3 separate regions of the Homo sapiens genome follow, and regions 1 and 3 are each linked to region 2. Evidence: fine-mapped expression QTL. A gene starts in region 2. Each other region holds a variant in brackets. All regions are shown on one strand. Distances are from middle to middle.

Evidence for each region.
Region 1: its variant is fine-mapped to the expression of CCT2 in whole blood (TOPMed, PIP 0.93).
Region 3: its variant is fine-mapped to the expression of CCT2 in whole blood (INTERVAL, PIP above 0.99).

Annotation. Positions count from the first base shown.
Region 1 is chr12:69,456,883-69,466,224 of GRCh38, forward strand. LINC02373 (long intergenic non-protein coding RNA 2373) reads left to right here. Exons shown (of 3, transcript NR_185917.1): 2 at 2,635-2,718; 3 at 3,723-5,911. Among named protein-coding and RNA genes, the nearest start is that of FRS2, 8.8 kb to the right of the region's middle. The variant C/T (reference allele first, on the strand shown) is at 6,051.
Region 2 is chr12:69,580,116-69,591,188 of GRCh38, forward strand. CCT2 (chaperonin containing TCP1 subunit 2) reads left to right here and starts at 5,344. Exons shown (of 16, transcript NM_006431.3): 1 at 5,344-5,409; 2 at 6,155-6,229; 3 at 6,638-6,703; 4 at 7,390-7,501; 5 at 7,815-7,891; 6 at 8,035-8,147; 7 at 9,370-9,572. The coding sequence starts at 5,407. MIR3913-1 (microRNA 3913-1) reads right to left here and starts at 4,708; the gene lies at 4,607-4,708. It overlaps MIR3913-2 (microRNA 3913-2), which reads left to right and starts at 4,608; the gene lies at 4,608-4,707. RefSeq lists an enhancer at 5,375-5,714.
Region 3 is chr12:69,506,521-69,517,593 of GRCh38, forward strand. The region is part of intron 1 of FRS2 (fibroblast growth factor receptor substrate 2); the gene reads left to right. SNORA113 (small nucleolar RNA, H/ACA box 113) reads left to right here and starts at 8,920; the gene lies at 8,920-9,073. The variant G/GT (reference allele first, on the strand shown) is at 6,631.

The DNA.
Region 1 (9,342 bases), 120 kb before region 2:
TGAAGCATTAGAAAGTGTATGAGATCCCTAAAGAACAGAGTAAATGTGGAGAAGATAGAACGATATTCAGAAACCAAGATCAAGGCACTGGGAGTGCTCATCGTTACTATGGCATTGCTTCTCTGAGGCTGCCTCACTAACTGAGCTAGGGAAATACATGTATGCATATACATATGTACATATATAGGTATTTTCACATATGCATTTATATACATATATGCATACATGCATTTACATCTATGTTAATTAATTAATTTATTTATTTTTGGGACGGAGTCTTGCTTCTTTGCCCAGGCTGGAGTGCAATGGCTTGATCTCAGCTCACTGCAACCTCTGCCTCCCGGTTCAAGTGATTCGTCTGCCTCAGCCTCCTGAGTAGCTGGGATTACAGGAGTGTGCCACCATGTCCTGCTAATTTTTGTATTTTTAGTAGAGATGGGGTTTCACCATGTTGGCCAGGCTGGTCTTGAACTCCTGACCTCAAGTGTTCCACCTGCCTGGGCCTCCCAAAGTGCTGAGATTACAGGTGTGAGCCACCGTGCCCAGCCCTATGTTTATTCTTTATATCTGTCTTTATATATTGAAAACCATAAGTTCACACTGATAGGTTCAATTCTAATCCATTGCCACAGGGCTTAGTCTAGCTTTCCCCTTCCATGTTTACACCTCTTTTCTCTGACAGTGAGCAACTTGACTGTCATTATCCTTAATATTCTGCTAATTTGCTTAATCTCCCTGCATGTTGCCAATTTCCTGACACCTTTAGGCTGCTACCTTGCTAGAACACTCTTCCTACGCAGGCCTGGCTCCCATGAGGCTGCCTTCCGGCGAGAAAGGGAGGAAAGCTCACTTTCCTTATTTAGGTTCTGCACATTAAGTATATTATTTGGCATTTTATTTGTTTTGTTGCTATTTTGAATAAGCATTTCTTTTTCACTATATTTTCTGTTCATTGCTTGTATTTGAAAAGACTACAATGTATAGTTTCATTTTTTCATATTTGCCTATTTGAAGTGAAAAAAGTTTGTATTTCATTACTCATTGGTTATTAGTAATATTGAACATTTTCAAGTGTTTATTAGCCATTTTAATTTTTCCATGAACTTTCTGAATCCTTTGCCTTTTATTCTATAGAAATCTTTTATTACTTTTTTAAAAAAATCAACTTTCTTGAGTTCTTTATTTTTATTATTATTATTTTTTTTTGAGAAAGGGTCTTGCTCTATCACCTGGGCTGGAGTGCAGTGGTATGATCTCGGCTCATTGCAGCCTCCACCTCCTGAGCTCAAGTGATCCTCCCATCTTAGCCTCACAAGTAGCTGAGCCTACAGGCATGGACCACCACATCCGGTTAATTTTTAAATTTTTGTTTACAGATGGGTTTTCATCATGTTGTCCAGGCTAGTCTCAAACTCCTGAGCTCAAGCAATCTGCCTGCCTCAGCCTCCCAAAGTGCTAGGATTAAAGGCATGAGCCACCAAGCCCAGCCTTGAGTTCTTTATAAATTCAGGATAACTGTTGCAAATATTTTCCAAGTTGACTGTTTTAATTTTTATTTTTTTTAATTTACAGAATTTTGATTTTTCATATAGTCAAATGTGTTGATCTTTTTCTTCATGATTTATTTATTTTTTTTTCTTTTGAGACAGAGTTTCTCTCTTTTTGCCCAGGCTGGAATGCAATGGCATGATCTCAGCTGACTGCAACCTCTGCCTCCCAGGTTCAAGCGATTCTCTTGCCTCAGCCTCCCAAGTAGCTGGGATTACAGGCGCCTGCCACTACGCCCAGCTAATTTTTGTCTTTTTAGTAGAGACGGGGTTTCACCATGTTGGCCAGGATGGTTTCGATCTCTTGACCTTGTGATCTGCCCGCCTCAGCCTCCCAAAGTGCTGGGATTACAGGCATGAGCCTTCGTGCCTGGCCACTGTGATTTCTTATACTATGTTTAAGCTTCGAACTCCCTTTCCTATCCAGAGGTCAGATATTCACCTATGCATTACTTTAGCTAAACATTTTTAGAAAATTTAAATTTTAACATTTTATCCATCTAGAATTTATTTTATTACATTTTTAGCCAATTTGTGGATAATTTGAATATATTAGGAATATTAATCTTTTGCCTGTCACAATTGACGCAGCTTTTCATTTGCCATTTTAACCTATTTCATTTTGATTTATCCCCTTCTTGTTTTTAAGCTTAGAATGACTTCCCCTATCCAGAGACTTAATAAACATACACTTACGCTTTCTTTTTTCTCTTTTTTTCCTCTCCTCTTTTTCTCCTCCTCCTTCTTTTTCTTTAGCATGTGCCTCAAGGCCAGCTATAAGTAAAACAGAACCCCTAAACTAGCCCCAGATCACTTTGGTCTCTTGGGGGTCTTACAGACCAAGCAATACGTGGGATTGAGGTGGATTTTTCTAACACACACTCCCCTCCCTTTCCCTCCTACATAAAAAGCAGTCCAGTGTTGAACTTCCCAATAAGTGTATGTATACCTGACAATTCATAAACTGCTGAAGTGAAAGGTGGCCTTTAGATATTCCGTATATAAATTTAGCCATTTATACAGAGGGAATGAAAAAAAAAGTGGCCTGATTCTGATCAGATGCTGCTTGTTTCTCCTTACACCACAGGGTTCTGTTCTATGTCATTTCCTTTGAAGTCAGTGGGAACTCTGTGCAGGACGGCAACATGAACACCGGCCTCTATACATGAAGGTGAGAACTGCCATTACGATAAACTATTCAGCAGTGTGGTGGAGGGAGCATTGGTTTAACACACTTGGTGGCTACCCTGCAGATCCCACTGTCTGTGAGAGCTTTGTTCAACTGGAGCAAACAAGAACTTTTTGAATCTTGACATACAAGGGCTCATTCAGCAGAGCATCCCCTGTTATGAGAGGAGGCACAGTGCTGGGCAGACATTGCAGTTTTTAGCCAGCACACTGAGGACATTTCTCTCATTCTCTCCATCTGTAAAGAGTCTGTTTTCAAGACCCCCAAAATGGTTTTCTATAGATTAGAAAGGAGTATAAATATTTTTACATGTTTGTACCCAATTACACAAAAAAGAAGGCAAAGTGCAATTGTATAAAAGTAGGTAGGCCTTTTCAAGATGGAAAGAAAGAATTCTTTGAAAATTTTAGTTGAAGGGGTTACGTGATGAAAAGCAGAGCTCATAAAAGAAACAATGAAAAAAACTTTGACATGGAGAAGGTATTGAAAATGAAGAATCATGTATATTTGCTTTCTATCTCAGGATCATTATTTTATTCACTGGTCAACAGAGTCTTTCTCCCTCCACTCCTTGTCACAATGGCTTACATGCCATTTATTAGAAACCTGAATCAAACGATGCTTCCAGGTTATTAGTCTACAAACATCTGAATGAGTAGAAGTTAAAGAGCAAATTGCCCAAGGTGATTTTTTTTCCCTACCCATCCCATCGCCGGACTTTGCAGTGGCGGTGCACCCTTCCTGATTCCTTCATCACATCATTCTGCTCCTGCCTCTAGGCCTTGACTTGAGCTGTAGCATATACTCAGCTTCAAGCCTCCTCACTTACAAGAACCCCTCTGAGGGCAGTACACTAGTGTTTTGTATTTGTAATTTGTCCTATTGGATGGCATTGGTGGAGCAGGCATTTCCAACTTACAGTTTTGAATGCTTTCTCAGGAAATGTGTATCCATCTCTGTATATAGAATACTTTTTCTTTCCACAGGCCATCAAGTGGTTAACATATAGACAGTATTTAAATCCTTGGGACTGGATGAGATTACCAAGGGAGGAAATGTAGATGAAGGAGAAGAGAAAGGATGGAGTTCTGGAGCACTACAAATTTAAGAGACTGGGGAGAAGAGGAGAAACCCAGAAAATCTACCTTGGAGATCACTGCGTAATACTACACTGGGAGCAGTATCATTCTTTGAAATAATAATTATAATGTAATATAATAGTTATAAACTATTCCAGTGTGTGAACATGCCCTTTATTCAAGCAGTTCTCTACCAGTAGCTTCTTAACTGGTCTTCCTGCTCTCAGTTTATCCTTACTCCAATCCTTTGTAAATACTGCTTATGCTAACCTTGGATTAATCTTAGTTATTTATGCCTGCATGAAAAATGGAAAAATTGGACACATATTGCATTTATATAATGAAATACAATGCAGTTTATTAAAAATCATGTTGAAAAACCCACAACATAATGTTGAATTAAAAAAACATAATCCCAGTCTACACACACACACACACACACACGTGCACACACATAAATATATGACCAGAAATAAAATGCTGTACATTTAGCCATCAAAGTTTAACATATTTATGGATGATGGATTTCCAAGTAATTTTTATTTTCATTTTTTATTTTACTATTATGTATGTATGTATGTATGTATGTATGTATGTATGTATTTATTGAGACAAAATCTCACTCTGTCACCCAGGCTGGAGCGCAGTGGTGCGATCTCGGCTCACTGCAACCTCTATGTCCCAGTTTCAAGAGATTCTCCTGCTTCAGTCTCTGAGTAGCTGGGATTATAGGTGCACGCCAATTTTTATTCTATTTTTGGTGGTTTTCTGTGTTTTGCAAATTTTCTTCATAAAAAAAGAAAGATTTTTAGAAAGCATACTTTAATCATGTTGCTTCACGGGAAACCAGCTTTGATTCTTTACTGCCTAAAAAGATAATGTCCAAATATCTTAATTTAGTAGTGAAGGCCCTTCAGAGCAGAGGCCCAACCTACTTACTCAAAGTTTTCTCCTAGTTGGCACAAACCCTTTGTTGCAGTTAAAAGGATCTGCTCAAGGTCTGCTAGATGTGCTTGGTACTTTGCTGCATCTGTACTTTTTTTTTAATGCTAGGATCCTTTTCATGTCCCTTATTTTCCTATAATTTCCAAAATCCTTTAAGACATGATTTAAGTTCTATCTCTTACCTGAAGACCATGAGTGAGGGACGAGGTCTCCAAAAATGAATGACTCTGTTATTCATTTAGCATTTACCACAGGATCCTTAGCATTATTACGGTTCTTTTTCTATGAGCCCATAACTTATCTCCCTAACTGGCACTTTTAAGCACTTAGAAGACTTGTTCTGTAACTTGGAGTTCTTGGTATTCCCCTGACCTCCTATGCATATTGAGTATGCAATAAACATTTGTAGTAGTTTAGATCCAGGGTTATTTCAAATAAATATAATTTTTGAAATTTGAAATAATTCTGGATCTCTCTTTCTCTATGCGTTCTATGTGCATTGAACTTGCTGAAGGAGTAACAGATTTTCAGCAGTTAATTTCCTATAAGGGAAAAATTTAAATAAACTTAATTATAAACTATTGCTTAAATATTTTTCCTGCACCAAAGGTCATTGGTTATTTTTGCTTCAGGGAACGTTCTCTTTTTACTGTCTCCTGAAATACAACTGAAATACAATGTAGCTTTCCTTTTCTTCTTTATTCCCTGGTCCCAAATATAATCTCCACATGTGCTCTATCTTTGTAGGTGAAATACTTCCTGCCTCAGTGAAATCCGGCTCCCAGTGAATTTCTTTGGTTTAGAGAGCAACTTGAGGATTTTGCATTTGGCACCATTCAATTTCCTTGGCATCTCTCCATAGTCACCATTTAGAAGGCTCCTGGTCAGTAGGATTTCTCTCCCTCTTACACTCTGTAGAGATTAAAAAAGGATTGTATTACAGGGGCTTGGAAATGTGATGGAAAATGAAATTTGCTTTAGCAAAAATGGAAGCTTTTGAAACTCAAGTTGTTCTAACAGGACCCTTAGACAAGAATAGTTTTTAGGGGAGCAAAATGGCAGATACGGTTTAAGTTCCTTATTTAGATTGCCACTAAGAAATATTATGATGTGTAAAATCACTCACTCAAATAAAGTCATTTGCAAAACAATATGATTACATTTATGTATTTAAAAATATTGGTGCATACATACATATAAAGCAAGCTTGGATTAAGATCTTAAGACAGATCGTGGCCAGGCGCGGTGGCTCATGCCTGTAATCCCAGCACTTTGGGAGGCCAAGGCAGG[C/T]GGATCACCTGAGGTCAGGAGTTTGAGACAAGCCTGGCCAACATGGTGAAACGCCGTCTCTACTAAAAATACAAAAAAAAAAAAAGTTAGCTGGGCATGGTGGCAGGCACCTGTAATCCCAGCTACTTGGGAGGCTGAGGCAGGAGAATCGCTTGAACCTGGGAGGCGGAGGTTGCAGTGAACCAAGATTGCACCATTGCACTCCAGCCTGGGGGACAAGAGCGAGACTTCGTCTCAAAAAAAAAAAAAAAAAGAAAAAAAGAAAAAAGAAAAATCGTAAGCACTAAAGAGCTTATGGTCCATAGTAAATATTATTTTACTGTTTAATTTAAGAATTTAAACCATGTTAAAATTAAATTAGTATAAGGAAGTCCTAACAAGCTCTGATTTTTTTTTATATCTATGCATTTGTAAAAACACAAATTTCTTTTTTTTTTGACACGTGTATAAGATCTTTATTATCAAAAGTTTCTCTAAGAATTTCACTTTGGTAATTTTTTTTCATATCTCATTGAAATTTTAACCACATTTTCCTCCTTCTATTTTGTAAATTACTTAATAATGATTGAAAAACACAAAATTCTTTAATTTTTTTTTTTTGGTGGGGCCAGGCACAGTGGCACATGCCTGTAATTCCAGCTACTAGGGAGGCTGAGGCAGGAGGATTGCTTGAGCCCAGCAGTTCGAGATCAGCCCAGGCATCATTGTGAAATTTCATCTTTTGGGTGCTTTAAGCACATACTTTCATGTTTCCATTGGGTTTTCTTTATATGAATATAAATGCACTGATAAATGCCTGGAAAGCAACACACCGAATCATTTATAGTGGTTACATCTGCAGAGAAGAATGGGCTGGGGCATGGGGAGTATTAGTGATGAAGAGGTACTTTTAAATTTTACCCAATTTTTTCCTAATAATCTATAATAAAAATGTAGCCATTTATTACATGCACAATGATTATAAGGAATAAAAATAGCTGGGCACAGTGGCCCATGCCTGTAGTCCCAACACTTTGGGAGGTTAAGCAGGGCAGATCACTTGAGCCTAGGACCAGCCTGGGCAACATGGCAAAACTGTGTCTCTACAAAAAATATAAAAATTAGCTGGGCATGGTGGTGCACGCCTGTAGTGCCAGCTACTCAGGAGGCTGAGGTGGGAGGATCGCTTGAGCTCAGATGATCAAGGCTGCAGTGACTGCACCACTGCGCATCAGCCTGGGTGGCAGAGCAAGAACCTCTCTCCAGAAAAAAAAAGAAAGACTAAACAGACTGGGAAAATGAGAATGAAATGTCTCACCTTTCCTTTTGATATCAAAGTTCAATATTAAAGAGCTTATATTTGATGAATATTAACATGGTAACCTAGAGGGCAGTACCAATTATTCTCCAAGTTGAATGGATTGACTTACTATCCAATAACATGGCTAGACTGCTGCCTATTATTTTTTTTTTTTAGATATTGCTGCAAGTCATCACCACTGCTAATGTTCACTGAGCCCTTATAGTCTGCCAGCCACTAGTTCAGAGTTCTACATGTATTAATGTGTTGAACTCTCACAAAAATCCTGTGAAGTGGGTATTATTATTATTGTAATTTTTATAGTGAAGAGATAGAGGTTGGAGATTAGCTGTCTTGTATGAGCTGGGTCGCACAGCCAGCAAGTGATGAAACTGAGATGTGTCACTGGCAGTCTGACTTCAGATTCTGCATAGGAAAGAGGAAGGGAGTAGAGCCAGTCTGTGGTTTAAGATTTTTATTTGATTTAATAGTTGGTATATACACTTTTGTCTAACTGGAAGGTGACTAAAGGCATCTGGGTCTGGTTGATGTGCTGGTTGAAAATTACTATTATTATGAGGATGATTATTATAGTATTTAGTAATTATGCAGTGCTTTATACTTCAAAGAGCTATGCTGTGTAATCATTTATTAGCTATGTCTCACAACATCTCTAAGATATAAAGATGCATTTATCATGCATATTTTGCAGAAAGAGAAGCTGAGGCAAGGTAAGATGGGCAGTGTTTTGATAAAAAAGGAGTAAGAGTGGAAGGCAACCTCTTAAATTCCTGATACTACGTAATTCAATGTGGACAACAGAAATTTAATTAATTTAAGCCTTTTAAAGAAAAGTGCCAGTTCCAGTACTTTTTCATGATATTTAGTTAAAAATTAAATGTAAAATATACCAAAGGTTGATGAGCATTCCCTTTTAAGTTCTCTATTTTTGAACTTTCTCTGCATTTGTGTCAATGTGACATTTTTGCTCAAATTCAACCTTGACATCTCCCATTTCTCCACGCAAGCAGGATTTGACTAGAGATACTGGTTTTCACTGTCAGTATTATATGGCTTCAAATTTCTTCCGTTGTTTGTGAAACCACGTGCATAGGATTCGTTATGATAACTTTCAACAGAAACAAACTTCATGCAAGAACTATATGGGAATTAAAAGAAGTTTTAGACATGTGGCAGTTTGTCCATTTCAAAAATGATTATAAACATGTCAATATGAGGGGTGGGAGAGGGAAAAGGATCTATGTGGGTTTATTATAGTGACCTGTAAAAGGCCTGGAAGAGATTTATACATTCTTCTATAAATCTGGTTGTCTCTTTCAGTTGGGAGGCAGTCATGGCCATGGCACATAGAAAAGGATCAATAAATATTAGTTTAGTGGTTATGAGTGTGTCTCTGGGGACAGACTGCTTGGATTCTAATCCTGACCTCATCATTTGCTAGCTACCTGAACTAGCTTTGCTTGTGTCTCCATCCAGGAAAAAATAAATTAAAAAAATATATATATACCCTATAGGGTCGTTTGTCATCAAATCTATTTAAGTAATTGCTATTATTCATTTTTTGTCTTTCCAAGGCTGTTGACAAATAACATTAGCTACAACTCCATTAAAACGTTGGTGGTAATGATATTTATAATTTGATGTCTGCACTTGCCTTGCTTGTTTAGAAATGGTACAACGTGGCCAGGCATGGTGGCTTACACCTGTAATCCCAGCACTTTGGGAGGCTGAGGCGGGCATATCACCTGAAGTCAGAAGTTCTAGACCAGCCTGGCCCAACATGGTGAAACCCGGTCTCTACTAAAAATACAAAAATTAACCGGGCATGGTAGTGGGCACCTGTAATCCCAGCTACTCGGGAGACTGAGGCAGGAGAATCACTTGAACTTGAGAGGCGGAGGTTGCGGTGAGCTGAGATCGTGCCACTGCACTCCAGGCTGGGTGACAGAATGAAACTCTGTCTCAAAAAAAAAAAAAAAAAAGTACAGTGTA
Region 2 (11,073 bases):
GGAAGGGCATCCAACTCAGCCTAGGGGTGGAGGTTTTCAAGCAAAGCTTCTTAGAGGGGGTGATCCCTGAGGTGGTTTGTTGAAAGTCTTTGTAGCTTAGAGAGGATGTCTTAGGGAGAAGGGATAGCATGTGCAAAGGCACAGAGGTATAGAAAGATCATGACATTCAGTGGTTGCAAGAGGTTCCAAATGACTAAGCGCATGGAGAGCAAAGGCAGGGTTGGGGGATACAGAAGAAAGGAGAAATGAGAAACAGATCACAGAATCCTAAGGAGCTTTTGTTTAAATTAGGTGAGAGAACTTGAAGGATTTTAAACACCAGAAAAATAATAGTTTAGAAAGATTTCTCTGACAACATGGATACGTGAAGGGCGCAGTATTTTTTTTTTTTTTTTTTTTTTTTTTTTTGAGACGGAGTCTCTCCCTGTTGCCCAGGCTGGATGGAGTGCAGTGGCGCCATCTCGGCTCACTGCAAGCTCCCCCTCCCAGGTTCATGCCATTCTCCTGGCTCTGCCTCCCAAGTAGCTGGCCCTACGGTATTTTAATAAAGCAGGGAGACTGGTTGAGAGGCTTTTTCAGAAATGGAGCCAGATCTGATAAATCCGTATTCAAAGGCATTGTTAAAGGACTGTTTAGATTGTTTACTGCTGTGCAACAAACCACCCTAAAAGTTAGTGGCTTAAAGCAGCAATCATTTAATGTCTCAAGTTGCTATAGATCGAGATGGGCAGGGCACAGCAGAGATGGCTCATCTCACATGATGTCTGGAGGCCTGGCTTCCTCATATGCTTTGTGCCTATGCTAGTATGATTCAAGCAGCTGAGGGCTGGCTGGACCAGTTCCACTAGGTTATGTCTGGAACTTAAAGCTCTCAGCTGTGTTCCTTAGTTTTCTTCCATGAAGTCTTGGGTCTTTCTTCATGTGGTCTTCTTACATGGCAGCTTAGGGTTCCCAAGAGCACAAAAGTAGATGCTGCTAGGCTTTCTTGAGGCCTAAGCCCAGAACTGGCACAATGTCAATTCTGTTGTATTTTGTTGAATTACAGTGGCTCATATAAAAGCATGAACATCAAAAGTGTAGTTTATTCAGGGCCACCAATGTAATAGAGGGCCTAAAGGAGGAAGAATTAACACCTCTGATTGATAAGGGGAATGACAGAAATGGAGGGGTCAAGGATGACCCCCAGTTATCTGGTTTGGGTGACTGAGATGGTTGATGGTGTCAGTTCATTGAGATTTAAGATATATTTGGGGGCTGGGCATGGTGGCTCATGCCCGTAATCCCAGCACTTTGGGAGGCTGTGGAGGGTGGATCACTTCAGCCCAGAAGTTTGAGACCAGCCTGGGCAACATGGTGAAAACCTGTTTCTATGAAAAAATACAAAAATCAACTGGCGTGGTGGTGTGTGCTTGTAGTCCCAGCTACTCAAGAGACTGAGGCAGGAGGATAGATTAAGCCTGGGAGGTTGAGGCTGCAATGAACTGTGATCCTGCCACTGTGGTCCAGCCTGGGCAACATAATGAGACCCTGTTTTTTTTTTTTTTAAAGTGCTCCTCTAAGTGTGCTCCACAGACTGATTCCTGTGTACAAACTATCACGGTCTGCAACAGGAGAAATATCAAGTCTTCTAACCTTCTCCCTACTACCCAAACAGTAGGTGTCTGGGTGGACCCAACTTAATGTGACTGTGGACTCCTGGTCCTTTATTTGGTTTCCTTCCCCAGGTATTCTAACTGTTCCTGAGGAATGTTGACAAGTCCCATAACTCTGTTCTGGTGGTTGTTTGCCACTTCGCCAGTTATTTCACTCCAGTTAATGAATCTACCCTTGCTCCCAAATCACCTCTAGCCATCAAATAATGATATGCTACAGTGCTTTCCTACTTCCATAACATGCCAAGCATATCCAACCTCGGCTACTATATTTATAAAGCCTATTAGAAGACTTGGGATATAATGATAACAATAGCTAAGCTAAACAGGCACTGTTCTAAGCTATTTAATCTGTGATAATTATCTCCATTTTACACAAAGGGAAATTGAGGCACAGAGAGATTATATAACTGGAAGCTGACCAGTTAACAAAAAGCCAATTCACTGAAAGCCAAATTATACCAAGGGGAAGAGAGAGGAGGACACAGGGTCATAGAGAGGAGAGGGTCACAAAGACTTTGAGGGAGGAGGAAGGGTTAACTAAGAGAAGCCAAGACCAAGGGACTTGAGAGTAGAGGACAGAAGATGAGCCAGGAGAAAGTCACACAACGTGTTTAATCACAGAAACATGGATTCCCAAGGTCTCACTATCTCCATAGGCCCTGTAACCTATCTAATACAAATTACGATAAAATGTATAAATAGATGGGCACAGTGGCTTCTGCCTGTAATTCCAGCACTTTGGGAGGCCAAGGTGGGCAGATCGCATGAATTCAGGAGTTCAAGACCAGCCTGAGAAACATGGCAAAATCCCGTCTCCACCAAAAATACAAAAAATTAGCTGGTGTGGTGGCGCATGCCTGTATTTCCAGCTACTCGGGAGACAGGTCGGAGGATCGCTTGAAGTCAGGAGGCAGAGGTTGCAGTGAGTGGAGATCACACCACTGCACTCCTGCCTGGGTGACAGAGTAAGACCCTGTCTCAATTAAAAAATATATATATAGGTGTGGTGGCTCATGCCTGTAATCCCAGCACTTTGGGAGACTGAGGTGGGCAGATTGCTTGAGGTCAGAAGTTCGAGACCACCCTGGCCAACATGGTTAAACCCTGTCTCTACTAAAAATACAAAAATTAGCCAGCTGTGGTGGTGCATGCCTGTAGTCCCAGCTATTTGGGAGGCTGAGGCAGGAGAATTGCTTGAACCCGGGAGGCGGAGGTTGCAGTGAGTTGAGATCATACCACTGCACTCCAGCCCGAGCGACAGAGTGAAACTCTGTTTCAACAACAACAACAACAACAAAAAAGTATAAACAGCTAAAAGAGACAGTTTTTGGTAAACCAGCACATTGATCACGCTCTGAATGGCCTTCAATGAACTGATTTAAAGAGCCTGTGAAACCCACCCAAGACTACAAAGCTAGTACGTAAAATGGTTGAAATTCAAACTCATATAGTCTGGGTCTAGAAGCTGAGTGTTTAGCCTCTAGGTGTAGAGGTGTCATCAAAGGAGGGGGAAGTAGGAAAGAAGGAAGGGTCAAAAGATGCAATGGAGAAAGGACACATTTCCAAGGGTCCCATCATAGAGTCTCTTCCTGGCTGCCTCTAGCCTCAGTTCCACAAGGTGGCAGGGCCTGCCTCCTTCTCCCCATCCAAATGCCTCTGGCTACATTCAAAGCCCAGCAGGGAGCAGTCATTGGTTTCCCCATCACACACAGTCTCAGGCTTGCCTACCAGAGGACATAATAAATATCTCCAGGTATGTAATTTTGCCCACAATAAAAACAACCTTTTTCAATATTGTGCAGGCATCTTAGTTTTTTATTGTGAATCTTCTCATTCCAGAATGCGATTTGGGATCTGCCTAGGAAAGTACATTTCCTGAAAGAAGACCAAATTTTCCTACAAAGAAGAGAAAACTCTTGGGAGATTTAAAATAACAATTTGTCCAGCCTGAACTCCCCTTTTCATGTTGGACCTGAGGAATACTGTAAACCAGGGTCAGCAAACTTTTTCTGTAAAGAATTAGATAATACATGTTTTAGGTTTTGTGGGCCCATTCAACCTGTCATGACTACTCAACTCTGCCACATAACTCTGCTATCGTATTGTGACAGAGTAAATATGTATGGGTATGCCCATGGATTCCAATGAAGCTTTATGGACACTGAAATATTAATTTCACAGGATTTTCATGTGTCAGGAAATTTTTGATTTCTTTCAACCACTTAAAAATGTAAAAACTATTCTTAGCTCTCAGGCCATACAAAAAACAACTGGCAGGCTGGGTTTGACTCCTCACAGCTTGCCAACCCCTGGTGGAAATCAACCCACTTAGAGGAAATCTGAAGGGTAGAAACAACTAAAAAATTGAAAATTCCTGTTAATGTTAGCAATGTCAAAAATCCAGGAGACCCCAGCTACTCAGGAGACCAAGGCAGGAAGATTGCTTGAGCCCAGGAGTTCCAGGCCAGCCTGGGCAACATAGAAGACCCCATCTCTAAAAAAAACAAAACAGAAAAAGAAAAATCCAGGAGCTTGTTTTGTTTTGTTTTTGTTTTGAGACAGAGTCTCGCTCTGTTGCCCAGGCTGGAGTGCAGCGGCGTGATCTCGGCTCACTGAAACCTCTGCCTCCCGGGTTCAAGCAATTATCCTGCCTCAGCCTCCTGAGTAGCTGGGATTACGGGCATGCACACCACGCCCGGCTAATTTTTGTATTTTCAGTAGAGACAGGGTTTCACCATGTTGGCCAGGCTGGTCTCCAACTCCTGACCTCAGGTGATCCGCCCACCTCGGCCTCCCAAAGTGCTGGGATTACAGGGGTGAGCCACCGCGCCCTGCCGAGGAGCTTAAGCGATCAGTTAGTCAAAGGGAGAAAAGAGGGTATCAGTAGATGACAGAAAAATTTTTTAGAGAACAAATTTTTAGACATCCGTCAACTTAGAGAAAGTAGAAAACTGTCTATAATAAACTGAAATATTTGGGACTGATCTTGATGTCTGCCAAGGTTTTGGCAGACATCAAGATCAGTCCCAAATATTTCAGTTTATTATAAACAAAGACTAATAAGTCGTCTCTACTATTGGAGGAAAAAAAAAAAAAAGACCGAAATGCAAAAATTCCTGAAAATGAGTAAATAGGGCAAAGATAAAATACTATAAATGTCTCTCTCAGTTCACAAGACCTTATCCTGGGCAGTCAACGTCCAGTTAGAAATAACGTCTGAAAATTCAGTAAGAGAAAAGGAAGTCTTCTTCTGTAATACTCAGTAAATAATGTTTAAAATTAACATAGCAATAATATTATCTGGGAATATGATAGTAAATAGCCCCTCCAAAAAACTGAAAAAGTTGAAAGCAGTTTTCCTGGAGACAGGAAGTGGTGAGGCAGATAAATTATGTTTTTCCTTATTGGTATATAACACTTTAAACTGTGTACATGTGTGACTTTAATAGAAGTGTTTAAAGATTAAATTTAAGAAAATAAAAAGTGTGAGCAAGAACTCCATTTCTATGGCAACCCGCGCGGCAGCCGCCTCTTTGTTCTGGAGCGGCGGCCACGCCCCCTCCAGTGTGAAAGGCTGCGTTTCCGGCCCGTGGGGCTCCAATCAAAATGGGACGCCTGCTGGCGGTAACGACAGGCCGGGGCCCCGCCCCCCGAAGTAGGGCGTGTGGCGTCACTTCCGGCTTCCTTCAGTCCGCTGGTCCCGAGCACGAGCTGTGAGGGGATTCACTTGTGTGCGGAACTCCTCGGAACCATGGTGAGCCTGACTCCCCTGCCTCTTGCCCTACCCCTGCTCCGCCGTGCTCTTGCCACCCCACTGCTTCCTCTGTCCTGCTAGGGTCGTAGGCTCCGTTTCTGTCTCCCCGGCCCTCCGCACATGGTGCGAGCCATGCGCGGGGCGTGCGGCCTGCGCCAGGCCAGCCGGTGGAGCTCACCACGAGGGGGAGGGGTGGACCGCAAAGCCAGCGTCTCCTTGTGCCTAGGTCTTTGCATAGTCCCGGCAGCCCAGGTCCGCGCCTCACCCGGAGCGAAGAAATTTCTAGTGTGGGACCCGCTCCGCCCTCCTTCTAGGGGCGGAGCCTGGAGCGACGGGGTCTGAGCCATCAGAGGGTGGAGGGGCCGCAGCCTTCCGAGGGTGGAAGATGGAGGCCGCGTTCCCTCGCCCGCCCGGCAGGCGTCACCTTGATGGCCTGCAACCCCTCCCTGCCTCATTCTTAGTTCAAGATCGTCTTTAGTCTCGCTGTACGTAACTGTCAATCTCGCTGGTGTATAATTTATACTCCCGGGGGCCTTGTAAATCCGAAAAGCCATGTCGCTCTCCTACAAGTCCCTCTCTCCCACTTAAATGCTTTCTCCGATGATGGAAGCTTCATTTGATTGAAAACATTGTTGTAAATGAGTTTTCTCTTAGATGTCCACTTGTAAGACTAGTGGAAGGCACCTCAGTGTATGTGTTAGAGTATTGGTACTTAAACGGAATGCCTCTTGGTTTTCCTTTTCAGGCGTCCCTTTCCCTTGCACCTGTTAACATCTTTAAGGCAGGAGCTGATGAAGAGAGAGCAGAGACAGCTCGTCTGGTAAGCCTTGTTCTAAGCATTGTTTTAAAGATAAAACTGGAGGCCAGGCGCGGTGGCTTACTCCTGTAATCCCAGTACTTTGGGAGGCCGAGGTAGGCGGATGAACTGAGGTCAGGAGTTCGAGACCAGCCTGGCCAACATGGTAAAACCCCGTTTCTACTAGAAATACAAAAATTAGCCGGGCGTGGTGATGGGCACCTGTAATCCCAGCTACTCGGGAGGCTGAGGCAGGAGGATCGCTTGAACCCAGGAGGCGGAGGTTGCAGTGAGCTGAGATCGCGCCATTGCACTCCAGCCTGGGCGACAGAGCGACACTCTGCCTCAAAAAAAAAAAAAAGTAAATAAAGATAAAACTGTACTTGAAGACTGTAAAGTTGATTCTGATAATCTCCTTGGTTTTTACTCCAGACTTCTTTTATTGGTGCCATCGCCATTGGAGACTTGGTAAAGAGCACCTTGGGACCCAAAGGCATGGTAAGAAAAATAGAAAAGTTTTATATTTTAATATTGTTTTAGAGCGCTTGGTGGAAATATAATAACAAGCGTATTAAAATGCTTTTTAATCTTTAAAACGTTTAATTATAAAAGACAAGTATGTTCTCCTTAGTAAAAATCAGAGTCCCCAGAATCACCATCCCCAATCCCATGCCCCTCCCCAATGACAAGTACTGTTATCATTTGCACGTACATCTTCTAATATTCTGTTTATGTAGAAGTATGTGTACTTCATTATGTATTTTATACTCATGTAACATACTGTTTTATAAAACAGATACTATTTATCAATACTTTTTTGTAGCTTGCTCTTTTAAATTCCTTTCAGTGTAAGTAGATAACACTGCCCCTTTAACTGTCAAATATTATCCTGTACCTTAATTATTTTATAATTTAATTATGGCTGTATTGATAGTTTCTTTCCATTGTTTTTGCAGTTACGGTGTTGAAACAAAAACTAGTGTCTACCTGTGCTTCTAGTGTTTCTAGGGGTAGATACATGGTTTGGTTACGTGGTGTATGTATTGAAAACATTTGATGAATGGATACCACAAAATAGCTATCCAGAGTGTTTATACACTAGCACTGTGTGAGAATACTGATTGATCCATGCATTCTTCAAGATGTGCTTATGTCTTAACTTGAACCAATTATGTTCCCTTTAGGACAAAATTCTTCTAAGCAGTGGACGAGATGCCTCTCTTATGGTAACCAATGATGGTGCCACTATTCTAAAAAACATTGGTGTTGACAATCCAGCAGCTAAAGTTTTAGTTGGTAAGTCTGAATATACTTTTTCACCAACCTAATAATACTGTTTGTTAACATTTTTGAAATAACTTTATAAATAGGCTGTGTTGACCAATCGTACTGTCAATTGATGTCCACTAGTTGTTAATTATCGTTGTTAAAATACAAGCTTCAGGAGTGCCCGTATGTTGGTGGTAAAACTGTTGCATTTCAGACCTCAGAGTTCCAAATAATTTGTTGAATGAGGAACCCTGGTAAGTTTAGATTGGTAGTGAATATTTTTGGAGAATTTAGTAAGCAAAGAAGCAATTTTGAGTTAATAACTAATTTCTTTTTCTAGATATGTCAAGGGTTCAAGATGATGAAGTTGGTGATGGCACTACCTCTGTTACCGTTTTAGCAGCAGAATTATTAAGGGTAAGAGCAACTAAGCAACTCTTTTTTCCTACTGTGTTTTTGAGTATCAGAGGTAATCTAGTCCTTACTTCCTCTGTCTTTACTATTGAGGAGTGCTTAATAATTTTCTATTTATAACTTTTGTTTTATAACTTTATTAATAGGAAGCAGAATCTTTAATTGCAAAAAAGATTCATCCACAGACCATCATAGCGGGTTGGAGAGAAGCCACGAAGGCTGCAAGAGAGGCGCTGTTGAGTTCTGCAGTTGATCATGGGTTTGTATAGCAAAGTACTACTGTTCTAAACATTTAGTGTTCTTTCATAACATGCTTAATGCAAGAAATCTATAGGACACTGAAAAGCATACACAAAGATCATCTTGCTGCCTCACCCCACTCCAACAGTCAAACCTACATCAGCCTCCAGAGATAGCCACTAAAGTTAAGTTTGGGTTTTTAGTCTTTTTGTATATATCATCAAAATATACAAATAAAGCAAATAGTATAATACTGTATAGAGAATTTGTTAGCCTCTTTTTAACCTAGTTAAATATTAAGCACATTTTTGGATGTCAATTTTCTGTGCAGTATTTTAATAGAGTTACACATTTGAATATTTGGCTAGAATGACTGTATTAACCTATCTGTAGGGGGAGATTTGTGTATTTGATGATTTTTAGCATTATAAAATAACTTTGTGACGTTGCGACATAGCCCAAAGGTTTCTAGAAGTGTAATTGTTGGGTCCAAAGGTAAGTGTGTGTGTTTTAAGGCACCCCCAAACCTGGGCTGCACAGCAGGTGAGCAGCAGGTGGAAAAATTGTCTTCCCATGAAACCAGTCCCTGGTGCCAAAAAGGTCCGGGACCACTGTTTTAAGGCACTTCTATTTATTTGCCCATTCACAACTGTATAATAATACTTGTTTTTCACGTCCTTTTATTTATTTATTTATTTTGAGACGGAGTCTCGCTCTTAGAGTTGCCCAGAATGGAGTGCAGTGGCACGACTTCGGCTGACTGCAACCTCTGCCTCCCGGGTTCAAGCGATTCTCTTGCCTCAGCCTCCCAAGTAGCAGGGACTACAGGCATGTGCCATCATAGCCAGCTAATTTTGTATTTTTAGTGTAGATGGGGTTTCACCATGTTGCTCAGGCTGGTCTTGAACTGACCTCAAGTGATCCATCCTCCTCAGTCTCCCAAAGTGCTAGGATTACAGGCGTGAGCCACTGTGCCCGGCCATTTCTCACATTCTTGCCAACATTAGACTTTTGCATGCTTGTGTGGCCCCCACCCCTCTTTTTTTTTTGGCATTTTGCCAGTTTGGTGGGGAAAATAACATCTTTAATTTGTGTTTCTTGATTACTGCTGAGGTTTAATTCTTTTCATATAGCTTACAGACTTGATCAGTTAGGGTAAAATTATCTATTGACATGAATATCTAGATAAATTTTGAAAAGTAAAGTAGGGTTAATATGTATATTTGGTTGGTTTTATTTAGTTCCGATGAAGTTAAATTCCGTCAAGATTTAATGAATATTGCGGGCACAACATTATCCTCAAAACTTCTTACTCATCACAAAGACCACTTTACAAAGTTAGCTGTAGAAGCAGTTCTCAGACTGAAAGGCTCTGGCAACCTGGAGGCAATTCATATTATCAAGAAGCTAGGAGGAAGTTTGGCAGATTCCTATTTAGATGAAGGTATGTATGAATGTCAGATACAAGAAGCTTTGATTAGATGCTGAGGGCTGAATACTGAGTGAATTCTGTTTTGAGACCAGTGACCCTTTACAAAGCCAGTGAACTTGAATTTAAGGACATATCATATGTGCAACCATTTTTGTCATTTTATTGACAGTGTACTCCTCTTCCCGCGCTATTCCAGCATTGTTGATGATCTCTAGAGTTTACTTAACTACCATGAAGTTATTTGCAGTCTCTGATAAAGAGGAAATGTTTTCTTTTACTAGAAATCATCTATTCTCAAATGGTACTTTTACCAGGATTATATGTATTCTCCAGGAAGGGTCTGGGTCAGTCAAATCATTGTGTTAGCTGGTTGTTGAGGATGTACAGTTGACCATTGAACAACATGGGTTTGAATTATGTAGGTTCACAATGCAGGTTTTTTCAATAAATATAGTCAGCCCTTTGTGTCCGTGGTTTGCACATGTGCAACCGAACGTGGATGGAAAATGCAGTATTTGCAGGATTTGAAACCCATGTATATAGTGGGCCAGCTTTTCAAATCTGCTGGTTCCAGTCAGCCTGGAACTTAAGTATGTGGGGATTTTGGTGTATGTGGGCGTCTTGGAACCAGTCCCCTTCGTATACTGGGGGATGACTAGTTTTTTTTAGAAAAGAATTAAAAAAAATTTCTTTAACAAATAATTATGTATGTTTATAGGGCAAGAGGATCTAGTTCTTAAAGAGTGATAAATGAGACATAATAAGTACTGCTTTCTTAGTAGTACATTTTTGTTTAGAGTGAAGTTTTCCAGATCATCTTCACATTATATTTACTTCACAAAATGGCCTGTCAAAAAGTATAGGCATTCTTATATAGAGAAGGAAAAAAAAAGAATTAGATGGTGCTTTACAACTTCTGTTTTTACCAGTGGTTTGGAGTCCTGGTTTTGTTCTGTGTCATAGGTCTTGATTTATTTTAAGAGAGAGTCATAATTCTGAAAATACTCTTGATTAAGTTTATATACAAGAGCTGTGTAGCATTTCTTTTTTTTTTTTTTTGAGACGGAGTCTGGCTGTGTCACCCAGGCTGGAGTGCAGCAGTATGATCTCGCCTCACTGCAACCACTGCCTCCTGAGTTAAGGCGATTCTCCTGCCTCAGCCTCCTGAGTAGGTGGGATTACAGGCGTGTGCCACCATGCCTGGCTAACTTTTTTGTATTTTTAGTAGAGACGGGGTATCGCCATGTTGACCAGGCTGGTCTCGAACTCCTGACCTAAGGGGATCCACCTGCCTCAGCCTCCCAAAGTACTGGGATTACAGGCGTGAGCCACCATGCCTGGCCGCTGCGTAGCATTTCTGATAGGGGCTGGTGGTAGGGAAGGAGCATTAAAACAAGAATATTAGTAGCACAAGCAGCACCATTCTTGAATGTCTGCTCTGTACTAGGAATTGTAATAGGAACTTTAGTCATTTAGTCATCATGACCTGGTGAGTGAGGATTAGGTTCACTTG
Region 3 (11,073 bases), 74 kb before region 2:
AAATATATAGCAAAATCCAGAGAGAGAGAGTACTCATTCTCCCTAATATCCCTTATCTTTTCAAATGCTTTTATAGCATTTGAAAGATTCTTTTAGATCCAGTTCGGTGTCTACTTCTTCTTTCAAGCCCTCTATTATCTTCCCCTTCTCTAAATTTACAATTTCGTAGTTTACTTCTTAGTCATTTCTCTGTTTTGTATTGTTCATGAATTGTTTTAATGTCTTAATATTGGCAGCCTTCTATGGTTTGAATGTTTGTCCCCTCCAAAACTCATGTTGAAACTTAATCCCCAATGTGGCAATATTGAGAGGAAAAGCCTTTAAGAAGTGGTTAGGTCATGAGGGCTCTGCCCTCATGAATAGATTAATACATTCATGGATTAATGGATTAATGGGTTATCACGGGAATAGGACTGGTAGCTTTATAAGAAGAGGAAGAGAGACCTGAGCTAGCATGCTCAGCCCCACCACGTGATGCCCTCTGCTGCCTCAGGACTCTGCAGAGAGACCCCACCAGCCAAGAAGGCTCTCACCAAATGCGGTCCCTCGACCTTGGGCTTCCCTGCTTCCATAACTGTAAGAAATAAATTTCATATCTTATAAATTGCTCAGTTTTAGGTATTCTGTAATAAGCAACAAAAAACACACTAAGACACAGCCCTACTACAACATACTTCTTACCCCCTCTCCTACACTAGTCAATTTCAAACTCCTTGAGTGCAGGAGGAGTATGCCTTTCTTTCTGTCATGTTCCGACACATAATAGGCACTCAGTGATAAATACTTGGCATTTTTTTTGGTTGTTATATCTCTGACTATGTTTCTGTCCTGTTATATGGGTGTGCAATGTAAATAATAAGACAAATATTATTTTAATCTTTTTAAGCTTTTATAATACTTGTTTAATTGTTTGCAAATTTGTTTTATAGTTGACACATGAAATCCAGCAACTCTGTGTTGTAGATCAACAGAGCCCATTAGTACTGCTGGGAAAGGAAACCAAGGCCTCATAGCTTTTCTCTTCATATGAAAAGAACTTCATTAATTTTTAAAAAATTTAATAGACTGTGATGTAGTTTTAATCTCATGGTTTTAATCTTGTGTTTTTAAGCATTTTCCTTTTCTGGATGAGGTTCTTGGTTTTGACTGTGTAGAAGTATGTTAATTCGATTATATTTAGTTGATGAATTTGTGCCCCTAAGTATGGTACTTAAAAAGTTGCAGCCGGGCCCGGTGGCTCACGCCTGTAATCCCAGCACTTTGGGAGGCCCAGGCGGGCGGATCACCTTAGGTCGAAAGTTCAAGACCAGCCTGACCAACATGGAGAAACCCTGTCTCTACTAAAAATACAAAATTAACAGGGTGTGGTGGCACATGCCTGTAATCCCAGCTACTCAGGAGGCTGAGGCAGGAGAATTGCTTCAACCCAGGAGGCAGAGGTTGTGGTGAGCCGAGATCGCGCCATTGCACTCCAGCCTGGGCAACAAGAGCGAAACCCCGTCTCAAAAAAAAAAAAAAAAAAAAAAAAAAAAAAGTTGCTGCAGTGCTGCAGTTCTTGCAGATAAGATAATAAGATTGTTTACTGTTTTCTTTGCATATTTATTCCTGTGTGTATTTTTCTGTGAGGTAGCCTTTCAGTCTGTCCATTTGTATCATTTGACATTCAGACTTAAATCAACTCTACTATTGCTGGTGTTTACAAATGCTAGTCATTGAAAATGTCAAAATTTGGATTTGACCCAAGAGTTGCAAATAATGTAAGCTTTTATAAAATATATCCAAATATCTATTCTTAGGGAGAAAGAGAGAAAATACGGCATTTAAGGAGTGGTTTTTAACAGTTAGGCTTTAGAATTGCTACATTCCCAAAGTATTTCTCTAGTGAATGACATACCAGTTAATGAATTGTTCTACAAGAAAGGCATCTATTATGATTGGCCTCACTATTACTGGAAGTCCTAAGAATTAACAGAAATTAATAATGATAGTTGGAAAAAATGTATACTCTGTAGACAATTTTAGATCTTTTAAACAAAATCTTCTGGTTACCTTTCTAAATTAAATTTGTATTTTAAAATTAAAATGATATTTGTACATGTGTAGTTTAAAAAGTCAAATTGTATTACAAGGCTTATGAAAACAGTTCCCCATCTCTCTTCACCTCCAATTACCAATCTTTACAAGGCAGTCAGTTTCCGTTCTTTTAGTTATTTGTTCTGATATTTGTCTTCATTTTTCTAAGTCAGTTATTCTGCTTTTTGTTGGGTTTTCATTTTAGATAGTAGCTACTGACTTCCATCTAAGAAGGATGAAGATTAGTTATCTTAATCTCTCTACTGCCCACAGGCTTTTATACATACTTCCCTTTTTCTCATCTTTATAGGGTATCAGATTTTGGGGGTAGTTTAGTGTTTATTAAGACTATGCAAATATTTTTCACAACTGAGTCACAAAATTCACTAATTATATTTTGTTTTTCCAGATAATTATCCCAGTTTAAAATTTTTTTCTTGTTATTAATTCATTTACAATTATTTAACAAATCTGAAACAGCTCTTAATATGGTTGGACACATTAAGTAATCTGTCATCTCCATTTTCTCCTGGGAGATAGTCTACTGCATCCTGAGCAGAATTTCACATAATTTTCCTCTTTTTCAGTAAGACATTTTGTCTTGCTTCAGTTGTGACTTGTGTTCCTAAGATTGGGGTCTCTCATTCACCCTCTCCAGAGATGCATCTCCAGACTCTTATCAGGGATAGGGAGAAGATTGGTTTTCAGGGGGAGGCCACTTATAAGAATTTTCAGCCAGTCATATGGTTTCCAGCCCCATCCTGTGTTTTGTCTTCACTGTCCCTACAATACCTAAATCTTTCCAGCATGAGTCAACTTGCTGCTGCTTTTTTTGTTAAATTGTGGTAAAATATAATAACAAAATTTACGGCTACAACCATTTTAAAGTGTACAGTTCCATGGTATTAAGTACATTAGTGTGCAATAATCACCACTATTCATCTCCAGAACTTTTTCATCATCTCCAGCTGAGACTCAGCACCCATTAAGCAGTAACTCCCCATTTCCCCCTCCCTAGCTCTTGGCAACCATTATTCTACTTTCTGTCTTTATCAGCTTGCTTCCTGATGGCTTCTCCCTGTCAGGTTTAGGTTTCAACTTTCTTGGTCTTGATAGGTTATTCTTTTCCTTTTCTAGCTTCCAAAATGATGTTGATGACTCTCATTTGCTGTTGTGTCTTTCCCAATTCTCCTCATCCTTATGGGCTTTATACTTCTAAAAACTCCTATAACTTTTTAAAGCGAGGTCTCAGGAAGGGTCAGTCATGCTTTACATCCACCTTTCCCCTCCCAGCCCTCATTCCTTTGTTATTGTTTTTAAATTTAGGTTTATTTTATTAAGAATTTATTGGGAATTTACAGGTATGCCAAACAAAGGCAATTTTAACAGCCATGTTAGCTATAAAATTAAGTGTGATAAATGGACTTGTCACTGGCTTCTATTGTGTTTGTAGGGGTTTGATTCTGCAGATCTGTGGCAATCTCTAGCCCCCTCTTTCTCTCCCTAGCATACCTCATGTGGTGCCAGCTGTCCTAAGCCATATTCTGTGCTTCTGCTGCAGCACTTTTCATAGTGATAACCTGACCCATCTGTGGAGAATGATTTTGAGAGAGAAACTTATAGCCAGACACATTAAAAGTCTGTTATTCAAGTTACAATTGAGCTGTTTCCTTTCTGTGCAACTTCTCTGAGTGCCCTCGGTAGAGTTAATTACTCCTTCTGTGTCTTGACACTTGTGAATAATTCTATTTTATTCTGTCTCCGTTACATCTGTCTCTGTACGCTAGATATCTGTATTACAAGATCTGCCTCTTTCTTCCCTAAACTGTTTTCAAGGTTTGAAAAATACATATTCTGATACAGTTCTTGGCCCATGATAGATAATAAATAATTATTTACTAAATAAATAATCCATCCAAATTGATTGAACACCCTATTTTCTGGCAAGCGTATTGTCATTGTACCCTTTATCACTAATGTCCACTGAAAGCTGTGCCAGAAACTGTATTTGCTTTTGCTTGTTACTTGGAGTCAATAATGTGTAGTGATTAGGCGTGTGGCCAGAATGTCTTGGTTCAAAGAAACAAGCAAGTTTCTTTATCTTCTGTTTCTTTGCCTGTGAAATAGAGACAATAATAGCTAGCATGGAATGTGGTGAACATTAAATTAATACATCTAAAGTGCTAGCTCAATACCCTGCACATTGTCTTTATAGTGAATCTGTTTTTCATCTTTATGGGATACCTGCTATAATAACATTAGTACCTGTGAATAAAAATCAATGTAAAATGAAAAATCTAGTTAGTATTTAAAAGATTTAGCCCTTTGAAGCTCTTTGAACATGTTCTGAAATTATCTTCGTGGACAGTGTGCCATTTAGATAATAAACTGGGAGAAGTAGTATCTTTCAGTGTTACATACCTACTAAAATACTGTATTCTTTAAATATACTATAAGGTATCCAACTCTTTTAAACATATAGAGATACTTTGAATGGCAGTGCCAGTACTTGTGCTTTTTTTCTCCCTGAGGAGGGTTTTATGCAGCCCATCAGTAAATTTGATATTTGGCATCATTTGTCTTCTCATTTGAGAACCTGCAGGATTTAATTCTCCCCTCAGAGACTGTGTGCTAAGGGAAGGGAAACCTCCATCATTCATTAAGCAGTCAATGAATACTTGCTTATGTACTAGATGTTTTGGACACAAGGGAGAATAAGACACAGTTGTTTTCCTAAAGGGACCATCATCTCTTCATCATTTCAGTAGTAATAAAATCAAATGTTCCGGCTGAATGTGTGCACACTCTTTGACCCAGAATTCCATTGATAATGTTTTATAAATGGAATAAAAATGTACAGAAGTGTGTGTAGAAAGTGTTCATCAAACTGTTAATTATAAAAGCAATAAAAATATCAGTTTTAGTATATTCATTATATTTCCCACAGTTTCAATTAGAAACGTGATATTACTTAATTAAAATTTTGTTTTAAAAAAACTCTGAACTGGTGGATTTACATGGAGATGAATAGAGGATTAGGTCAGTCGTTGAGTTCTATGATCCATTACAAAGGAATGGTAAACTGCTCATATCCGTGTTAGGGCCCCCATTTCTTACTATATATACGACTGGCTAGTTGGTTATTGAAAATTCTGTAAATCTTGTTTCTTTTCTTCCATCTATAAAATGGGCACAGTGTTAGTAGTTATGAAGTTTGTTTTGAGGATTAAATGAACAATGTATGTAACCTAAAAACAAAAAATACCTCAGTAAATATTGGCTGCTCTTATTGTTCCTGTTTTTCTCTATACTCTTTATCTGTTTAATGAGTTTTCTCTGCAGCTTTTGTTCAGTCAGTCTCAACCAGGGATGACAGTGTTATATTTAATCTGACAGCTCCCATTGCTTTGTAACAGAGGTTTCTGAAGCCTTTGCCAGACTCCACAGAGCTGTCACCTGTTACCTGTGTCTGCCAATTTTGAAGGACGAGAAATAGCAGTACATGTGTCTTAGGTTTGCCTTCCTTGCTGTAAACCTTTTATCTCTTTATACACACCCTCCCTCCCTGTTCTCTTTTGGGTTTCATGTACTTTTTGATCTTGCACCTTATTTTAATAGGAGTCTGTTAGCTCATCTCTTTTTGGCGGGGGAGGGGAATATTTTGACTGTTACTGTTATTTCATAGCATAAATTACTCTTTATAACAGGGTAGTAATTCAGAGCTAGCCTTAGGACCTTTTTAGCTCTGCTTCTTCTAGGCTTCTCATAAAACACAAATATAGCTAGTTTGTAAGACTTATTTGTGCAAGCCTCATTTAAGAAAGAAGACCTGGATCTTGTATGAACTTTTTCCTTTTATTCCCTTGAGTAGAAAGCTCACACTACATTTAGTATAAGAATCAAATGCAGAAGAACTTTTTTCTAAGGGATTGTGGTATCTTTATAAGGTGAGTGGATTGTGACCAGAAAAGAATTTTTTTTGTTGAGTTGCATACACTTAAATTCATGGTGTTTAGGTATATGTTCTGAGGGCATGCAGTAAATAACAACTTGTATATTATAATTGATGGTTAAGAAATAGCCCTTGGCACATATGCAAAAATGATTTTACTTTATAACACATCCCGGGCATTACCTAGAAATGAAGTTATAGACACTATAAAAAGTTTTCACTTTCCTTGATGGCTTTTTCTGTACTGATGGGTCTAGAGTATTTATGAATTATCATAAATCAGAACGTTATGTTAAAAAGAATACAAACAGTTGAAATCACTTGCTTTGGATTTAGTATTTTCTTGTTATTTTAAATTCAGGAATCATGCCATATGGTATTCAGTTAACTTCATTTCAGTTAACTTTATTTTGAAGGGCAAAAGGAAGATGTCTTAATGACATCATTCAGCTAGGAATCAGAAGATAAGTTCCTTGGGTAAGTTGCTCAACTCTCAAGGCCTCAGCCACTTGTAAGGTGTAATGTAGCTCTAATGCATGAGCATGAACCTTGAAATTCTGTGACTTCTCCTCCCGCCCCCAAATCTCTGGCAAAGTTTGGAGTTT[G/GT]TTTTTTTTTTTTGACCTTTTAATACATTGGATGTACATTAACAACAATATACCTTTCCAAATTCTTCTTTCTTTTTTCCTAAATTTTAATCTGAAAAGATTTGCTTTTTTAAACTCTCTTTTTTTTTAGGTTGGCAGTCAACAATCACCTTTTTAAAAACTATGCTTGATTTTGTTCATATATATATATTTTATTCATTAAAACATAGTTTCAACCCCATATGGTAACTGGCTCCTGAGAATAGGGAAACTAGTCCCCAAGCTTCAGCCTCCCCACAAACCTTGTATCAACATTTTTACTGATGAGTAATAAAATTAACAGATTTGAGCTGTAACATTCTGAACACTGGAAAAAGCATTACTGAACTGTAAAATAGACCTGCAGAGAAATCTGGCAGAGGAGGAGGAGTGTGCGTTAGCCTGTGACAATGAGGCACTGACTTACTATGCACTATTTTAACAGAGAATTGAATAGTTTTGCTATTTAGATATTTTACTGAGTTATTTTTTTAAACAAAAGAGGAATATATATGGTTTTCTGATAATAATTAAAAATTTTTTGACCTAAAAATGACCCTTGGGGGTGGGGCTCCTCAAGTGTAAAGCTCCTGCTGGGAAGAAAATTGTTGGGAATACATAGGTTGGTTTTAGGCATGGTGGAATCATTTGTTACCTCAATGAAAGCTACTCCTTGGATAGAGTTGTTTTCCTGTGATATCACTTCTCCTTGACAGTGTTCCTTTGAAATAAATCTAAATCTGCCTAGATATTTCTCACTTTCTAAATTAAGAAAATAATTATCTATAATTTATAAAAATAAAATTCGAAGTCTTCCCAGGATAAATCCATTGGTTAAAAGCAAACAATACTTTTTGAGTTTCTTTGGAGAGATGGAAAATTGCTTTTTTTTTTCTGTGTGGGTGAGGCAGGTGAGAATAGATTTCGCCCCTGCATGATGTCAATCAGAATTTTTGGTTAGTAAAAACCAAATCAAATATGTTTTAAAAGGAAATTGGGTAGAGCTCAGTGGCTTATCAAATTGTTGTGAGGGTTGGAGAACCAGATTCAGGGCTAAGCAACCAGAAACAATGCTCCAAATCACATTGCATAATTCCCATGAGGATGCCAGTACCATCTAGAGACAGACGGATGGATGCCACAACCTGTCCCAGCAACACTGCTGGCTCTGGATGACTCTAAATGCTGCCACCTCTGCCCCAGACTTGACCTTGCTGAAACTGCTCCACCATTAGTGTGAGAATGAGCTCCTTCTGCTCTCTGCTTCTGCTCACTAATTCGCTACTCTGGGATGCACATGTGTGTTTGGCAAAACATGTATCCTAGATGTATGGGACATGTGGGAAAGTGTTTAACCTTCTGCAATTATAAGACGGGAGGATGGCCAGATGCAGTGGCTCATGCCTTTAATCCCAGCACTTTAGGAGGCTGAGGTGGGTGGATCACCTGAGGTCAGGAGTTCTAGACCAGCCTGGCCAACATGGCGAAACCCCATCTCTACTAAAAATACAACACTTAGCCAAGCGTGTTGGTGTGTGCCTGTAATCCCAGCTACCTAGGAGGCTGAGGCAGGAGAATCATTTGAACCTGGGAGGCGGAGGTTGCAGTGAGCTAAATCACACCACTGCACTCCAGCCTGGGCAACAGAGTGGGACTGTGTCTCAAAAAAAAAAAAAGATGGGTGGAGTTCTCAAGAACTCCAAGCTGTAGAACCAGTGTTTTACCTTCTGAAATCATATGGCAGGAGAAGTTCAAGCAGACAAAAAGAATAATAGATGTTCACTGCACCTGATGTTTCAGATAAAATGTGAAGCCCTCAATATGTGCCACCATGCTAAATGTTATACAAGAATTATCTGTGTCATCCTCACAACAAACTTGTTAGTTTCATTTTAGAGATTAAAAGATAGACCAAGAGCAGGTAACCTGCCCAAGATTGTACAGTTAGTGATAGCAGTGTTGGGATATAAATTCAGAGCTATGACTCCAAAGCCAGTGCTAACTACTTAATTAAACTGACTTTTAATGTCTTTTCTGTCCTGATGCATTTAGCTCAAAATTCTGTAAATGAATCTGTTAGATTGAACCTACTATGTTTATTAAGATTTTGTGTATGGCATGTTTATGTGTTTAGGTAGTTTAAGGAAAGCTGAAAGTTTCTGGCTTTAATTTTTTCTATTTTCAGCTGATGATTAAATAATTTCTTATTCTTTTTCTCACTTTGTGACTATTTTTATAATTCACTTTGCCTCAGACTACAACCTGATAAAATGCTTTGTTTCTGAATATCAGTGCTTAGAAATGAGTTACTGAGTGTGAGAGACAGGCTGACATAAAAGGAGAGGGGATATAGAGTGACCGAGACTGAGGGAGGAAGGGAAAAACATCCCTCGCGCTCTCTTGCTGTCTCTCTCTCTCACACACATACACATACTCACACCCACTCCTCGAGAGGGAGAAACAAAGACAAATACATGTGGAAGAGAGGGTATGCACACACATTACCCTGAAAGCAACATTTTTAATCTTTTGTTCCCTCTAATGGTGGGTTGAAAAACAATTAAAATTTTCCCTTTCTGTATCAGGAAAGTCATTGAGGTCTTTTTTTTTTTTTTTAAGTTTGAATCTGTGCTTTCCCTAGAGTAAACAGTAGATCTTAAGCCTCTCTACCAGTTTACATTTTATATTGGTTTATGTATTTTTAGTTTGACCGCCCCACCCCCACCCCCACACACTGCAAAAGGTGTCATATCTAGGAGAAATAAACAAGAACTGTTATTTAACCCCGGGAAATATCCAGCTTGGTTTGGGCAAGAGGAAATGGTAAAGACAAACTCCCATAGTTTCTGTGATGTCAATTAAGCTGGAGTATTTATTCGTAAACCACCTCTCGTTAATTATTACTTTAGTACAAGTCTGTCCTACAGATTTTTCTATACTTCCCAAACAGTATTTCATAATAATGTTATTTTATTCACTTGTGCCTTTAAGACTAAATGGGCAGATATATTTTTGTAAAAGTGAGTAGATTATTATTATTATTATTATTACTATTTTTTTTTTTTTTGAGACGGAGTTTCGCTCTTGTTGCCCAGGCTGGCGTGCAATGGCGCGATCTCGGCTCACAGCAACCTCCGCCTCCCTGGTTCAAGCCATTCTCCCGCCTCAGCCTCCGGAGTAGCTGGGATTACAGGCGTGTGCCACCACGCCTGGCTAATTTTGTATTTTTAGTAGAGACGGGGTTTCTCCATGTTGGTCAGGCTGGTCTTGAACTCCGGACCTCAGGTGATCCACCCACCTCAGCCTCCCAAAGTGCTGGGATTACAGGCGTGAGCCACTGCGCCCGGCCAAAAGTGAGTAGATTAAGTGCCCTTCCACACACATGCTCTTGTAGACCGTCTGAATGTGGGCTGGGTGCTAGAGATGTGCTTGATGTAAGGTAAATATCCATGAAATTAAAAGTGATTTGTGTTCTGTTTAAATATTAAATTGTCAACATTGAGTATACTATACCTTTTGTCCTTATCTCCATCTGATCTTTCCTAGCATATAACTTTTAATATGAGAAATGTTATTTCTTTATAATTTTTTTGTTTTAATCCAGTACTAGCTGTATAAAATGGATTTTTGCATAAAAGCAGTTGATGTTATATATTCTTCTATTCTGCCACTTTTAAGATTTATGCTTCTTATACAAACTTTTTAGTGAATCAGTTTTGAAATGAGCAGTAGTCCATTTTTGAAAACAGTGTTGGCATATATAGACTTAGGATCCCTAATCCAAAAATTTGAAATCTGAAATGCTCCAAAATTCAAAACTTTTTGAGCACCAACATGATGCTACAGTGAAAATTTCACATCTGACCTCGTGTCATGGGCTACAGTGAAAACACAGGCACACAACACACAGCTTATTCATCCTCCACAAGGGAAAAAAGACCCTCCCAGCCCTCACAGCTGTAGTTACCTTTTCTGTGTGCAGAATGATGATAGTGCTAAACCACCACAGATTGTCCACGTGGGTGGCTGAGATAGCAACACCTTTGCTTTCTGATGGTTCAATGTATATACAAACTTTGTTTCATGGGCAAAATTATTTAAAATGTTGTATAAAATTACTTTCAGCTTATATGTATAAGGTATATATGAAATGTAAATGAATTTCATGTTTAGACTTGGTCTCATTCCCAAGATATCTCATTATGTATATGCAGATATTCCAAAATCTGAAAAAACTGTGAAATTCGAAACACTTCTGGTTTCAAGCATTTTGGATAAGGGATACTCAACCTGTACATTTTTTTTTTTTTAATCTTTAGGGGCATTTGCCAATGGTGAATCTAACTAATCATCTAGATAAGAAATGGTGTGTGAGGCCAAAGCAGTGATCCACTGACCCTAGACTGTCCTAAAGAGCCACACCAA